Regions from separate parts of the Homo sapiens genome. Here region 1 is linked to region 2. The links come from fine-mapping of genetic effects on gene expression. A gene starts in region 2. The other region holds a variant in brackets. All regions are shown on one strand. Distances are between the middles of the regions.

The links. PIP is the estimated chance that this variant, and not a neighbour inherited with it, causes the effect.
Region 1: its variant is fine-mapped to the expression of ALKBH8 in whole blood (TOPMed, PIP above 0.99).

Annotation. Positions count from the first base shown.
Region 1 is chr11:107,502,577-107,510,916 of GRCh38, reverse strand. It overlaps ALKBH8 (alkB homolog 8, tRNA methyltransferase), which reads left to right. Exons shown (of 12, transcript NM_138775.3): 11 at 1-30; 12 at 5,702-8,190. The coding sequence ends at 6,259. Among named protein-coding and RNA genes, the nearest start is that of CWF19L2, 49 kb to the right of the region's middle. The variant T/G (reference allele first, on the strand shown) is at 3,070.
Region 2 is chr11:107,560,706-107,569,049 of GRCh38, reverse strand. ALKBH8 (alkB homolog 8, tRNA methyltransferase) reads left to right here and starts at 3,315. Exons shown (of 12, transcript NM_138775.3): 1 at 3,315-3,449; 2 at 8,151-8,285. The coding sequence starts at 8,157. RefSeq lists enhancers at 1,015-1,094, 3,023-3,082, 2,929-3,445, 3,153-3,642, 3,446-3,964.

The sequences.
Region 1 (8,340 bases), 58 kb after region 2:
ATTGCTGTTATTCATCATTTTGCAACAGCAGTAAGTATGGTCTTTCTTTCTCTTAAGAACTTGTAGCTAAAGCAGCAGGAAGAGTTCATGAATTTTGCTGATTTTGGACCCTGTTTTAGCTTTTCAGTTCTTTCCGTTCTCTTTTCTTGTCACAGTTTTCCCTCTTTGTAAGAGAGCATGCAGAATAAAGATGGGCAACTGTTTAAGTATCTTCTACTTAAACAGAGGCCTGATGGGACTCTACCCTTTATTGCTGCATGCTTTCGCCCCTTTCCTACCCCAAGTCTCATTCACTTCTAAATGCCTTCCTTTAAACCCAGAGTCACAGAATTTTAGCTGGAAGAGAATTTGAGATCATCAGCTCCAAGCTTCTTGAGTATACTCTCTCCTCAGACTCTATGAGTCCCTTCTGTATTTCTTTCTCAGCTTTTCTTTCTCAACCCATAGTTTTATCCCTGACATGTGAGTGTTACTTCTTTCCCATTCTGTTTTTCTTCCTTTCCTGTTCTTTTTTTTCAAAACTCTGTCTTTTTTAGCTGGTAGTAGTATGTTGACTCTTAGTATGTTCTTAGTTTTAAAATAAATGAATTTAATATTTAATATTTTCTTTCTTTCTTTAAAGAACAAAAGACCACTTATTTTTCTTGGGTGTCAGCAGTCATTCCCTTGATTTATGCAATAGCTTTATAGCTCACCTTATGGGTCACCAGCAGTTTCAGTAGACCTTATGACCTTAACTGAGTTCAAAACAAATCAAAACAAATCAGAAAACTGTCTGCGTCTTTAGTCTTTTTACTTTTAATAGTAACCAAGAGATTCTGCTGGGCTGCAGCAAACAATATTAGGTTTTTTACAGCAAAAGCCACTAGGCCTCAGTGGCTTTCAGAGGCATGACTGCAAATAGAGGAAGGCTTGAAAGGAGCAGCTATACCAGTAAATTTAAAAATCCGCTTCATTTGGAAGAAATGTTTGGCACATATTGGTTGCTTCAGCTACAACTCAGTTGTTGTATTATAACTTATTTTCAAGTTATAAAAGACAATAATGTACACAAATATATCTATATCCATTTTTTGCAATCACAAATATATGTTGGATACCCTCCCCTCTATGAAGTTCTATATGATCGTCTTAGAAATCTGTCATGTCCAACTTTCTCTACATATCTATTGTCATTTATTTAAAAAATAATTCATTGACCACATGGAAAAGAATGAAGTTGGATCCTTACATTACACCATATGCAAAGAAAAACCTCAAAATGGATCAAAGACTTATACAGAAGAGCTAAAACTATAAAATTCTAAGAAGAAAACAGGAGGAAAACCTTCATGACGTTGTATTTGGCAATGATTTCTTGGATATGATACTAAAAGCACAGGCAACAAAACAAAAAATAGATAAATTAGACCATCAAAATTAAAAACTTGTACATCAAACAACACTATCTGCAGAGTGAAAAGGTAGCCCACAAAATAGGAGAAAATATTTGCAAATTGTATATCTGATAAGGAATTAATATCCATAATATATAAAGAACAACAAAAATACAACAATAACAAAACAATTTAAAAATGGACAGAGGACTTAAATAGACATTTTTCCAAAGAAGATATACAAATGGCCAATGAGCACATGAAAAGATACTCAGCATCACTAATCATTAGGGAATGCAAATCAAAACCATAATGAGATACCACTTCACATACATTAGGATGGCTATTATCGGAAATATAGAAAATAACAAGTGTTGGCAAGGATGTGGAGAAATTGGAACTCTTGTGCATTGCTGGTGGGAATGTAAAATGGATCAGCCACTGTGGAAAACAGTACAGTGGTTCCTCAAAAAGTTGAACATAGAATTACCACATGATTCAGCAATTCTGCTTCTAGATATATACCCAAAAGAATTGAAAGCAGAGACTTGAACAGATATTTATACACCTACGTTCATAGCAGCATTATTCACAACAGCCAAAAGGTGCAAACAACTCAAATGTTCATTAATGGATGAATAGATAAACAAAACATGCTATGTACCTATAAGGGAATATTATTAAGCCTTAGGAAGGAAATTCTGACACATGCTACAACATGGATGAACCTTGAGGATATTATGCTAAGTGAAATAAGCCAGATGCAAAAGGACAAATACTATATCATTCTACTTACATGAACTACTTAGAATAGTTAAATTCATAGAGACAGAAAGTGGAACAGTTGTTACCAGAGGCTGTGGGAGGGAGGCATGGGAGTTGCTATGATTTAATTGATACAGAGTTTCAGTTTGGCATGATGAAAAAAATTCTGGAGATGGATAATAGTGATGGTTGCACAACCATTAAGTATGAATGTACTTAATGTCACTCAGTTGTACACTTAAAAATGGTTAAAATAGCAAATTTTGTTACATATATTTTACCACAATAAAAATAAGTCATTGAGGCCAGCTGTCGTGGCTCACGCCTGTCATCCCAGTGCTTTGGAAGGACAAAGCGAGTGGATCACTTGAGGTCAGGAGTCTGAGACCAGACTGGCCAACAAAGCAAAACCTCATCTTTACTAAAAATACAAAAGTTATCTGGGTTGATTGGCGCATGCCTGTAATCCCAGCTACTCAGGAGACTGAGACATGAGAATCACATGAACCCAGGAGGTGTGGAAGTTGCAGTGAGCCGAGATCGTGCCCACTGTACTCCAGCCTGGGTGACAGAGACTCCATCTCAAAAAAAAAAAAAAAAAAGGCATTGAAAATCAGTTACACACTGCTATTAAGCAAATAGCTGGGCACAAGATGGAGAAGACCCAGTCCCTGCTTCATAGAGCTCATAGTTTAGTGGAGGAGGCAGCATTTATTTATTTATTTATAATTTGTTGGATTTATGTGTTGTTGGTTGAATGCCATAGTTATAATTTGGACTTAGAGAGTCATTGAAAGGTCTAACACATGGGAATACCTTGATGAAATAAATGCCTGATAGAGATCATTTTTATGGCACTGTGAAAGATGATATAGGGTAGAAGATAAGATTTTATGTGGAAAATCTCATCCAAGTATATGGACACAAC[T/G]AGGTAAGGGAATTAAAAGAGTCTACTGACCTGTGCCACATCCCTTCACTACTGCAGTGTTCTTTTCAACTGATCCCAGGATATCTCTATTTTAATCCAGTTTACATTCTAGTGTCAGTCTCTTCTTCCCTGACACCACTGCTTCGACTATTTGACATTCTTTTTACTTTTGTGACCTTGAACAAACATTTTTAGTGATTTCTGAATACTTAGGTTGCTCAACTGTAAAACAATCTCACAGGCCTGTCAGGATAAATGAGACAATACATAAAGTACTTGTTATAGTGTCTTATACATAATAAGAGCTCAGAAAATATTAGTTATTATTATTTTAATAATCTTTTTTTCAACCATTTTTATAAAATGGTCTCGTCTTATTTTTTAGCTTAATTTCCCGATATTTCCCAGCTCCTTAAACCCAACTTGGAAAAATCCTCACAAAGTTTCCTCCTATTAATTCACTTCTCTATGTATCAGTCATGCTGAAGATGCTTCCTCCTATTTTAACATATAACCTGAGATTATTTCCTGGGCTTTTTGGCCATTTTGAATGGGCTACTTGGGTGTACAATACAATGTGTGTTACTTTGACAATTAAGGAAGGCATTATCTAAGGCTAAGAGAGCTGTGGAACTGGAAATATTAATTTCTGTTTATCAAATATTGTATGTATCTTAGTTCTCTTTCATTGCCAGCCTTATTTCCATAATGTAGTTTATAATTACATTTTTTCCTCTTTTGTTAGCTTGCTGACTAGATATTCTTTCATTGTTTTTTAAATGGTTACCCTAGACATGACAACATGTATCTCTGACATTATAGTCTACCTTAAATTGGCATGATTACCCCTTCCTGACAATGTAAGACTTCATTAATAACATTTAACCCCTTCTGCCCTTTATTGCATTATTATTATATGCTACTGTTTTATTGTTTTAAGCTCTCAACCTTCATTTATATTTCTTCACTTTATTTACCCTTTCTGGTATTCTTCCTTTTCTCCTACATCTTCAGAGTTTCAGAGGAAGTAAGTTTCTTTTGCTCGAAGAGTTCTCTGTGCTGTTTTCTTTAGTGACACATTCTCTCAGCTTGTGTGTATCTGAAACCTCTTTATGTTGCCTTCATCTTACAAATTATATTTTTAGTAGGTATTAAATTCTCGATTGACACTGTTTTCTGTATTTTCCCCTCTTTTTCATCTCTGTGCTTCAATCTGGGTAACTTATACTGACTTGAACTATAGTTTAATACTTATCTTTGTAAATGTATCTAATTTGCTAAAAATTTAAATTCATCTTGTTTTCTAGAATTTCCGACTTCTTAATGTATTTTATCATTACTGAAATTCTTGATCTTTTCCTCTGGTTTTTTGAGCATACTAACCATAGTTATTAAAAAGGCTTTGTCTGGGGATTTATTTCTATGGTCTTTTTTTTTTCTCTGTTTTTCAGTCCTTTGGTCCTCATTTTTAACATACTTCATAATTTTTCACTGTATGCTGGGCATTTTATGTTAAAAGATTTGGGTACTTTTTCTCTGAAGGAAGTTAAATTTTTCTAAGGAGAAGCAGATAAAGTATAAGCAGATCACTTTCATTCTGCAGAGAACTGGTTTTATGCTTTATTGGGGATGATTTATATCTATTTTATTTTTGTTCCTACTTCTGTAATGTAGCCCTTCTGGGTCTCAAGTGAAAGCCTGGAATGTACTCCAAGGCTATTTTATACCTTGGCAGATCTTAAATTCCAATGTCTGTCTCTCTAACATTGGCTGCTAAAATTTTTGTTTAGCATTTTAACTTCCCAGCTGCTACTCTGCTGAGTTTCTTGGAATTTCACCCTGTGTACATGCTGCTTAGAAACTGGCAAATGCTTCAAAGGGTGTTTGCATATAGATTTTCAGAATAATTTTCCTGCAGCTTCTCCTTTATCTGTGACTCTGTCCCTCAGCTGCTTTGACCTCCCTGTACTCTGAGCCCTATCTGTTCAGGCCACTAAGGCCTCTGCATTCTGCTCATATTCTGTTGTCCCACATTATGAATTTGCAGATAATCTCAGGGAAAAGCTGGAGTGAATCTAGAGCTCACCTTGGCTTACTTCCCTTCTCTCAGGGATTACAGCCCTTCAAGGCCTGCCTGCAGTGTTACTCTCCAGTGCCTTAAGCAGCTGTTTTATGTATTTCACCCAGCCTTTCTGGTTGTTTTCAGTGGGAGAATTAATACAAACAACTTCGTCAAGGCTATAAGTAGAAGTCTCCATAGTATAGTTGACACGATTCCTTTGTAAAAGCATTATATAAATGATTAATGTCAAAGTGCTTCATATTACCGCTTATAGCCCTAGAAGAAGTCATCAGTTGTTTCATGTATCCTAGCCAGACAGTTAAGGAAAAGTCACAGGGAAGATTAACAGAAATAAATTTTGCTTTTCTGTACTTCCTCCTTCCTGAACACTTTTTTTCTTAATCACAGAACAGAATGCTCTTTCTTCTTTTTTTCCTTTTTGTTTTACATAAGATATTTTGTTAGATATTCTTATTGTTCATCCTAATTGAAAACAGTCCTATGGTCAGTTTTATTTTCTGATTTCCTGTCTCTTCCAGGTTGATCATGTGTTTTGTTTTTTTTCATTAGGAGCGTAGAGTGGCAGCTCTCCAAGAAATTGTTCGACTCCTGAGACCAGGTGGGAAGGCACTCATTTATGTCTGGGCAATGGAACAAGAATATAATAAGCAGAAGTCCAAGTATCTTAGAGGAAACAGAAATAGCCAAGGAAAGAAAGAGGAGATGAACAGTGATACCTCAGTGCAGAGGTCACTTGTGGAGCAAATGCGTGACATGGGCAGTCGAGACTCGGCATCTTCTGTCCCCCGCATTAATGACTCTCAGGAAGGAGGATGTAATTCAAGGCAAGTTTCTAATTCCAAGCTGCCTGTTCATGTTAACAGGACTTCTTTTTATTCTCAAGATGTACTGGTTCCCTGGCACCTTAAGGGAAATCCTGATAAAGGCAAACCTGTTGAGCCATTTGGTCCCATAGGATCCCAGGACCCAAGTCCTGTGTTTCATCGTTACTACCATGTGTTCCGTGAGGGAGAACTGGAAGGTGCCTGCAGGACTGTGAGTGATGTCAGAATTCTGCAAAGCTACTACGATCAAGGAAACTGGTGTGTGATTCTTCAAAAGGCCTGATTATTTACCTGAACACATCATATATAAAGAAGAAATGCTCACTTAAAAAAAAAGAGAGAATAAATTAATTACCCTTTTAATTAAAGAGAAAACTTGTGGGAAAGTACCAAAGGAAAGCTGAGAAAAATTTGGAAGTAGGGATTCATTAGGAGACATTCAAATGTCTCCTGTTGGCTGACATCACAGATGTGGTGTTGGCTCCTCCTACTTCCCTAGGAGAGGTGGTTTCTAAAAGTGATTGAAGCAGTTTGTGCAGTGTTTGTAATTCTTGGGTAAGAGCCCAGGATTTTGAAGATAATAGTTTTTTAGTAAAGTGCTACTAAATGTAGTAAATCATGTAGGATTTTAGGGATGTAATTATATGTTAATACAGAAAATAGTCCTGGTCAATAGAAAATTGTCTGAAGTTTTACCTATGATTTTTAGCTCTGTAAAATCATAGACAATAACCATTCTATTTCCATGCCTGACTAGCCCAGGGCTGGACGTATAGCGGGTGTCCAATAACGTTTAGTCAATCAGATAATACCCAGAACTTAGTAGGAGTTTCATTCAAAAACTATTTTTTGAACCCAACCATGTACCAGTTACTATTTTAAGTACTGATAATGAAGCAGTGAATAAGAAAGAGCAAAGCTCTTGCCCTTATGGTGCTTACATTCTAGACGGGGAGACAGACAGCAGGCAAATCAATAAATAGATACTATGTGCCAGATAGTGATAAATGCCATGAAAAACATAAAATGAGAGACGATTCACCTTGGAGCAAAAGATTACTTTTAAGTGACTGAAATAACTACTAATCCTGACTAATTTATTATCAAGAGTTAATTGGTATTCCAAATTCATTGAGCAGGGTGCTAAAAACAACCCAAATGTGCTCCTTTAACTCCTTTGTTTAAATGACAAAAGTTAGAATGTGGTCACTCAGACCTAACTGTGCCCTTAGAGCCAAAGCTGTGGTGTCATTATTGGTTATTTCTAGTTGATTCATAGTTTGTCCCAATCCAGGTTCAATCGGGTTATTTTTAAGATCTGTACAATATTGCATAATAGTAACCCAGTTAACTTACCACTTAGGTTAGATTTCCTGGAGGAACAAAGGTAGAAATTCAACCATAGGTCAAATTATCACATAGAAGGAAAAGGCTTTTTTTCAAAGAAAAAATTTTTTGAACACTTTACTCCCAGTATGCATTACTTTTGTAGTAGTAATGCTTAAGACTGTTTTAAAGAAAAATTGCTTTCTGTTTAATTAATGTTTACTGTTATTAATGCTAGTGATACTTAATCTTGAAGCATCAAGTTTTCAGAAACCTATAGTGATCAATAATGGGTCTCAGATGAGAGGATGATTATTTTTTTCATGGAATTTCAGTCCAACATCCTGGTGTACTGGTCCCTCTGGGATGAATTTATAAGGCTCATGATATAGGAAAAGGAATATAGGGCTAAAAATAGTTTTATTTCTGATATAAATTCTGGTACTTGACACCAAAGTTTGAAGTCAAGTCATGCCAATAAATTTTAACATCCAAATGAAATAGATGATTTTCTATGAAGATGAAAAATACCAAAATTGACTCAAGAAGGGAGAGAAAATGGAAGATGTTGAAAAATAGCATAGGAATTCAGAACTGGGCTCTAGAATCAGATTTCCTGAGAGTTGAATTCTAGATCTGCCATTTATTAGCTGTGGGATTTTGGGCAAATTTCTTGACTTTCTGTGCTTCAGTTTTCTTAGCTGTAAAATTGGAAGAGTTGTTATGAAAATTCACTGAAAGTATATTTGTATACATCATAGGATAGTGTAAGAATATAGTATGGCTTTGAGAAATGTTCATTATTATTACTCCCAGAGGAGTTTTAGGTATTAAGTGATGCCAAATATAATTTGTTAATTGTATAATAAAAATCTATATTCTTACTGACTTTTTTTGGTCTGCTCATTCTTATAAGTTGAGACAGATGTTTTAAAATCTGACACTATGATGATGGATTTCTCTGTTTTTCTCTATAGGGTTGTCAGTAGCAATAGTACAAATCTGGAAAAAGTCCAAATGTCCATCAACAGTAGAGTG
Region 2 (8,344 bases):
TCCAGGGGGCAGAGGTTGAAGTGAGCTGAGATTGTGCCACTGCACTCCAGCCTGGGCGACAGAGTGCGACTCCATCCCAAAAAATAAAAGTAAAAAAATAAAAACAAAGAATATTTGGCCACAAAGCTGAAAATATTTATTATCTGGTCCTTTACAGTAAAATCTTGCTGACCCCACTACTAGTCACATAGAGGACTCACCTCTCATGAAGTTGAGACTAAGGTTTTACTAAGGAAACAGGTCAGCATTTCATACTTTTGAAAAATTATTATAGATCACCATGTAAAGTGTTTGGCACAGGTGAAGATGAATTATATCTTCAAATAAAAATTCCTTTTCAGCTCAACATTTATTAAATTTCTAGTATTACAAGACTATGGAAGACATTGTGGTTACATAATAAATAAAACAAGGTCTCAGTGTACCTGAAAATCTTTTGGGGAATCATCTTCCTTAGAAGAAATGGTCTATGCAATATTCCAAGAAAAGATAAGGGTCTGTATACAAAGGATGTCACACAAAATTGTATATGTATTCACCTTTTTCTGGAGATATTGAGACATGGATGGGCAGCAGATAATGGGAAATGAAGGCTTGTAACTCAGGAGAAGAAGATAAATGAATAATCACTTAACAGCTAATCTCTGTTTGGTGTTTTATTAATTATCACGTAAATCTCAACAAAATAAATGCTGTTTTGTAGTTTTGATTTCAGGTCATACTCCAATGCCCCCATATTCTTTAGAAACCACTCTGGTTTCTAAAGGGAAGTGTTAATCAAGTTTAGCCTAAAGCTGCCTCCTTACATATTTAAGTTCAGCCTAAAGGTTTTTCTGTACATCGTGAACAAGTGGAGGAGTAAACCAACCATAGCCCACACCTGTGCCAATCGCTGAGTTTTGGCCAATCAAATGTAGCCAATTGTTTGAACAGTGTTCAAATAAGGCAAACACCAACCTGTAACCAATAACAGCTGTTTCTGCACCTCACTTCTGATTTCTGTACATCATTTCCTTTTTTTTTTTTTGTCTACAAATCCTCCACCACATGGCTGTGCTGGAGTCTCTCCAAATCTGCTGTGATTCTGGGGGCTGCCCGATTTACGAATCAAAAGTTCATTGCTCAATTAAACTCCTTTAAATTTAATTTGGCTAAAGTTTTTCTTTTAATAGAAGCCAGGGCTGAAGATAAAGATTAGGGAATGATTCACAAATCTCTTTATAACTCTGGGGAGGGCAGACAGGAAGAGACTAGAATAACAGAAAAGAGTCAAACTCAAAATCTGAGGGATTGCCTATATTTAATTACGGACAGAGTGAGAGAAACTAGTGGAAAATTCTGAAAGTAAGTGATCAGATCGTATAAAGAGAATTAAAAGAGAGGTGCAGAAAAAAAGTTTTAAAAGCTTCAGCACCTTAAAGCAGGACAAATACTGAGATGAAGTAATTGAATTTGATCAGTAAGAGATAAGAGGATATTTTACACTGTTATCCAGTTTGGTAGACACCGGCCACTTGTGGCTACTTAAGTTTAATTGAAACTAAAATTTAAACATTCAAAATTCATTTCCTTAGTCATACTAGCCACATTTGAAATGCTCATAAGCCACACGTTAACTAGTGTCTATTATGTTGGACAGCTCAAACTATAAAATATTTCCATCATTGCAGAAAGCTCTATGGGGATGTGTTTTTGAAAGCATCCAGTAGTGCAGAAGCAGAATTGCAATGGGGAGATTTCCTGTGTGTCCTCTTATACTCATGTAGCTTGCAATGTCTGGTGGATTTGACCTCTCCAGCTTGCACTTGCCTCCTCATTTTTACTATTAAGTTTTGGTCTCACCCTTTCTTTCCTAGACTATTGCAATGCTTGCCTATCTGCCTCTTCTGTTCTTTCATGTTTGTAACCTATTCTCCACACAAATCATTCCGCCACTCAACAGCACTCTTTTTTCACTGCCACTTTTCCTGGTCAGCCAGCTATTTTATTGTTAGTCCACTGTGGTGCACTGCAGATAGGGGCCATTGTATCAACAACATGGGAAGGTGATTCCTCTTCCCCTACACCTTTCCCTCCCTGCACTCACATAGCTCATAAACCAATGCAGGTAGAAGGATTATGGTACATTTATATAACAAATAACAGAGCAGGAACAACTGCTAATCATCACCCTCTCCTTTGTCTTTTACTTATGATCTGTTACCAGCTCTTTTTTCTTTCCCTCTGCCACTACTGGGCTTGTTAATATTTCGTTACTTTTCACTTCATCAGTCATCTTCTAGTCTCTCCTCCCACTTGCCACAAGAAGCTCTGGTCATATCATTTCATTTCTCTAACCTTCCTCCCTGCAACTCCCACTCTGCAGGCCTACAGAATTCTGTCTTGCTTCCTTCACCATTCTTCCACACATCTTTCTATTACTCTGTGGTACTCACCATTCCCCTGGCACATTCATGCATATTCACTTCCTTCCCTCCCGCCCATGCAATGCCATCTTTCAGACCCCAGGATCCTCTCCCATATCTCTGTGAACCCTGAATATCTGAGACAGGTCTCAGACAATTTAGGAAATTTATTTTGCCAAAGTTAAGGACGCCCGCCCGTGACACAGCCTCAGGAGGTCCTGATGATATGTGTCCAGGGTGGTCGGGGCACAGCTTGGTTTTATACATTTTAGGGAGACATGAGGCATCAATCAATATATGTAAGATGAACATTGGTTCCGTCCAGAAAGGAGGGACAAATTGAAGCAGAGGCGGGCCAACTCAAAGTGAGGAGGGGGCTTCCAGGTCGCACGTATTACAGCTGAGAGACAAATGGTTGCATTCTTTTGAGTTTCTGATGAGCCTTTCCAAAGGAGGCAATCAGATATGCATTTATCTCAGTGAGCAGAGGGATGACTCAGAGGGATGACTTTGAATAGAATGGGAGGCAGGTTTGCCCAAGCAGTTCCTAGCTTGACTTTTCCCTTTAGCTTAGTGATTTTGTGGCACCAAGATTTATTTTCCTTTCTCACCTCTAATAAGATTCAGGAGGAAATATGCACGAAGAATAGAAGGTGCCAGGGGACATTGCTGAAAGACCAAAGGGCCCAAACCTGTTTGACCTTGTCCATTTGGAGAGCAACAGATAAAAATATAGCTGCACTACCAATTATTACTACTCCCCCCAAAAAGACAACTGAATTTTCAGTGTAACAGACAGCACTTTACAAAGACACTTGGTCGAAAAAGGGTCACTCCCGGGCTCTGGGAGGCGAAGAGGACTGTGGGAGCGCTGTTCGTTGTCCCGCGGGCTCATGGGAAATGTAGTGCAGTTTTCTCCAACATGGCCGCGCCCAGGGGAGATGGCGTGCAAGTATCCGCTGCGGTGTTCTGGTGCTAGAGTGGAGAGGCTGGCAAAGAAGAAGGCACACGCATGGTGAGAATCCGGCCTGAGCCGAAGCGGAGGTGTGTGGCACTTCTTACTGGCGGGCATACGGGCAGCAAATCACCGCTTCCTCTTTTCAGCCTCTTCCGGTCTTCTCTATCCGCCTTGCCAGCTAGGGCTGAGAACCTAGGGAAAGGGGATGGATCCCAGAGGCGCCCTTGGTGCAGTGTGGGCAGTAGGGTGTCTGCGTTGGGTGGTTCTCTCAGTGTTTAGGGTGCATGTGTTTGTGTTTGGTTCGGGCGCTCACGTGGTGCCTGTGTCAATCTTCTGTTTTCTTTGGGGTTGGAGAGGACGGTTGCAACATGGGGCGTGTTAGTGTGGCGCTTCTGGGGCTTTTCTGACCGGTGACAATCGGTCTGATTGCATCGATGCAAAGGCAGTGCTGATGATCTGATCCCTTGCGCAGCTGAGTCTTCCTGTGCTCTTATTTGAGCAATCCCTGCGACTCCTGGACCTCTGGTAGCGTCAGCCTGTTATTTTGATAGATTTCATTGAATATTTATTGTCAGTTGTATGTCAGGCACCAAGTCTGTGCCCTTAAATAGATGACAGTTTTCTGGCCGAAGCCCAACACAAACAGGCAATTATAATACCATGTGAGAACTCTAGAGATAGAGGTCCATGCTAGGTGTTAATGAAAACGTTGAAGAAGGCCACCAAACTCAGAATTCTGGAGGAGGGGAGGTTTAGGAGGTAAGACAGCAAAGTCGATTTAGGTTTATTCGACAAATGGTTATTGAGTGGCTGCTAGGTGCTAAATCCTGTTTAAGTGCTGGGTGCTACAGGGTGAACAATAGAGACAAAATCTCTACTTCATGGAGTGAGTGTTCTTTATTCAGTTATGGGGAAAGACAGAATAAACAAATTAATGAGAGTGTAAGAAAATATGTAGTAAGTGTTATTCAAAGAGTTAAAACGGGGTGCCGTGACAAGTGATGGGGTGAATTTTTTTCTAAAAATTTTAAATCTTTATTTTCTTTTTAAATAGATGATGCAGTTTAAATAGCTACTAACTTCAAAAGTCATGAAAGAAGAAAGCTCCCTTTCATTCCTTTACTCATCGATCCATTTTCCTTCCCTGGAGGCAACCCATATCACCAATTTCTTGTGTGTCCTAAAGATTTATATGTAAACTCTGTATACCAGTGCCGTACGTTAAAATTGGGCCTCGTTTGATAGGAAGTTAGATTCTTTCTAATCTTTGCTATTAATTATTAGGTTGTGCAAAAGTAATCATGGTTTTTGCATTTTTTTAAACATATAAGTATAGGAACATTTGTCTATACTGCTTGTTTCATAATAGGCTCTCTATTATTCAAGGAGGGCATGATGTACATACTACTATTACCACGTAGGGCAATATCTAGTAGGATATATTGGCTTTAAACTCACTAACAAGCAAGTAGCAGAGCATGCATAATCTCCAAACTTTCATTATCCCACAGAGAGTACGCTTAGGCTGGAGCTGGCTGAACCGGACTCAGCATGGCTAGTATCATAGTTAATAGTGACTTCACTCCAGTAATGTCACAGGGAGCATCCAAGTATCTGTGCATTAGTGGAAACTCTGGCCAGGGAAGTGGCTTTGTCAGAAGGGGGCACCTCCAGACCTCAGCAGCTGGTATCAGCCTATCCTTGTTGAGATGACTCAGATATGTTGGGCCAGCACATTGCCTAGCCACTGGAATGGTGGAAAACTGAGCCTCAAAGGCCATTTAGTGTCTTTCTTCACGTGCAATAATATTGCATGACTGAGGGAGAGAAAAAGGAAAGGGATGACAAAAATGTGGTTATGAGGCTCCACCTGCTGGTGCTGGACTCTTAGTGGCAGACATTTTAAAAAGATATATTTAGCATCGTTTCTTTCTCATTCCTTCTTTGCAGTGTTTGCTCATGTGAAATATTAAAAATTCTGTAGTGCAGTCATCCCTTGTTCTCCATGACATACTGCAAAGTTGCTGTTCCACAGATGAAGATCTTGAAATGGAATGGCTCTAAAATAGCTCCTTTGAAGGGCCTCAGATATTCTTTGTTTTGTTAAGCCATTTTGATCTGCTGCTTCTGAAAATCAACAGTAATAAATAAATAATAATAAATAAATTTAATTCTAAGAAAGCTATGGGATAGGCACTATTATTTTTATCCCTATTCCTAGATAAAGAAACTGGAACACAGAGCTATATAACCAACTCATCTAGGATTATACAGCTAATAATCAGTGGTTGAGCTGAGATTTGAACCTGGAACATGGACTCCTAAACACTGTATTATATTACCTCATAGCACTGAATGAGGCTCTGTGGTAACTAAGAAAAGTGTGATTTAATCCCGCCTTCAGAAAGCTCACAGTTCAGTGGAAGGGGACAGATACTAAAACAAATAATTATAATTAATGCAATGTTAGACATGTCCATTCACTTATCCCCTTCCTGTCTTAATGACGACTGACTCCTAAACCTTTTTAACCTCAGTTCCTTTCCTAGGAGCCACTTTATTTTGTCACTTGCCAGCCAGACATTGCAACTCTGTATCTCACAATACCTTAAACATTATTCTATCCTAAATATGACTCATTACCTCCTATACTGAGCAGCTCTTCCTGAACCTCCTCCTGACTTTCCAGTTTTGAAGTGGTAGCACTCATCTCTTAGTCACTCAGCCTCTAACTGGTTAACAAGTAATCTTTGATTCCTGTCTCCCTCATATCTGGGTAGTCATCGAGGCCTCTTGATTCCGCCTGAACTTTTCACTCACCCTTCCTCTTTCTCCTCTCCCCCTATTTCGCTTCTTTCTGTTGCCCCCAGCCTAGATCAGGCCAGCATTTCTAATTAACAAGCTGGATTATTATTATTATTTTTTTTACCTCTCATCTCTCTGCTATGCTGCCAGCCAGCCTGCCTGCCTCACTGGCCTTACATCCTAGTATGTACCCCCTGTGCTAGGAAGCTGGACTGCTGGCATTTTAAGAGACTTGGCATTTGTCTTCTATACTAAAGATTAGTAATTAGAATTTTGACTGTTTATGATTTCATGTGAAATAAGATAAATAAGATTTTATTTAACCCCCAAATTTGTATATTTGGTTGACTTTGAAGACTTTAAAGTCCGCAGAGAGTGGGACCGGTCTAAAAAAATTATGCCTGTGTCTTGGTGTCTTGGCCAAACATGTCCATTTTGGTTTTAGCTTCTGCTCTTTACTGCCTCACTGAATACTTTCCTTTTTATTTGATTCTATAGTGTTCTTATCCTTCAGTACATGGCACAAATCTCCTGTTTTGAGGCCTTCCCAACTTTTCCAGTTTACATACTTTTTTTTTTTTTTTGAGATGGAATTTCACTCTGTTGCCAGGCTGGAGTGTAGTAGCATGATCTTGGCTCACTGCAACCTCTGCCTCCCGGGTTCAAGCGATTCTCGTGCCTCAGCCTCCCAAGTAGTTGGGACTACAGGTGCCCACCACCACACGTGGCTAATTTTTTGTACTTTTAGTAGAGACAGAGTTTCACCATGTTGACCAGGCTGGTCTTGAACTCCTGACCTCAAGTGATCTGCCTGCCTTGGCCTCCTAAAGATTACAGGTGTGAGTCACTGCTCCCAGCCCACATCCATCTTATTTTTGTCTCTAATTTGTGTCATACCTAAAGACTGTACCATCAGCATTAAATTATATAAAGATGTGTCATAGTCTTATTGTTTAGTGTTTGTTTTCCACAACTAAGTTACAAACTTGTTGAAAGCATAAACTATGTACTTTATTATGGTTGCATGCTGCAGGGTGCTGAGACTGTGTGTATTCACTCATTTATTATTCATTTAGCCCTACCATCAAATATTTATTGAGCAACTACTATGTGCTGGCATTCCTGCTCTCTTGGGATTTATATCATGATGGAGGAGTTAAGCTAACAGATGAATCATCACAAATTATGTTACATTTTGTGAACAAAATAAAAGACTACTGTGATAAAGTGTGATAAAGCATGATATTGGGTGCTGATTTGGATGGTGTGATTATAGAGACCTCTTTGGGATTCTGTTATTTAAAAAATTGTAGATATAAAATATATGACACATACAGTTTTTAAAATAGTAAAACAAACACCTACACCTACCATGTAACTGAAGAAACACCCTTTGATGCTCCTATGTGTCACTTTCATGTTAATTTCCTTTCCTTTCACCCACAGAAATAGCCTCTCTCCTGAATTTTGTGTTTATAATTTCCTTGCTTTTTTTTTTGGCACTGCTATGTATGTATTTCTAAATAATATATGGCTTACTTTTTGATTATGACCTTTATGTAAATGGAATCATACTGTAGAGTCTGCTAATTTTTTGTGTGTTATTTCTCCCCCCACCGCTCCCCTGCCTGCTCCTTGCCTTGGTTTACGTTATAGTTGTGAAATTTGTGTATGGCACATTTTACTTAGGACCTCATAAGTAAAGAATTCATCACCTATGAGTAAAATAGCACACTTAATGGAGCTACCACATTGGAACATTTTTTAGAACCATCAGAGCTATGCTATTAGATATTCTTAGATATTTGTTCATTTTTTATTTATCTGTTCTCACTTCTCTTAGTTGGTACAAGGTAAATGAAGCATTTTTAAAAAATTGTCACAGAAATATTGATAAACTATAGAATGTATGAATAACATCATTATAATTGTTCCTTCAGGACTCTTAAGGTTGACTTTTTTACTGTCTTGTTTTTTTACAGTTTGCTATGGACAGCAACCATCAAAGTAATTACAAACTCAGTAAAACTGAGAAGAAGTTCTTAAGGAAACAGATTAAAGCCAAGCATACTTTGCTGAGACATGAAGGCATTGAGACAGTATCCTATGCCACTCAGGTGACCTAAAACTACTATTATTATTAGAATGTAAATGTACTGACATGTTAATGTATTAT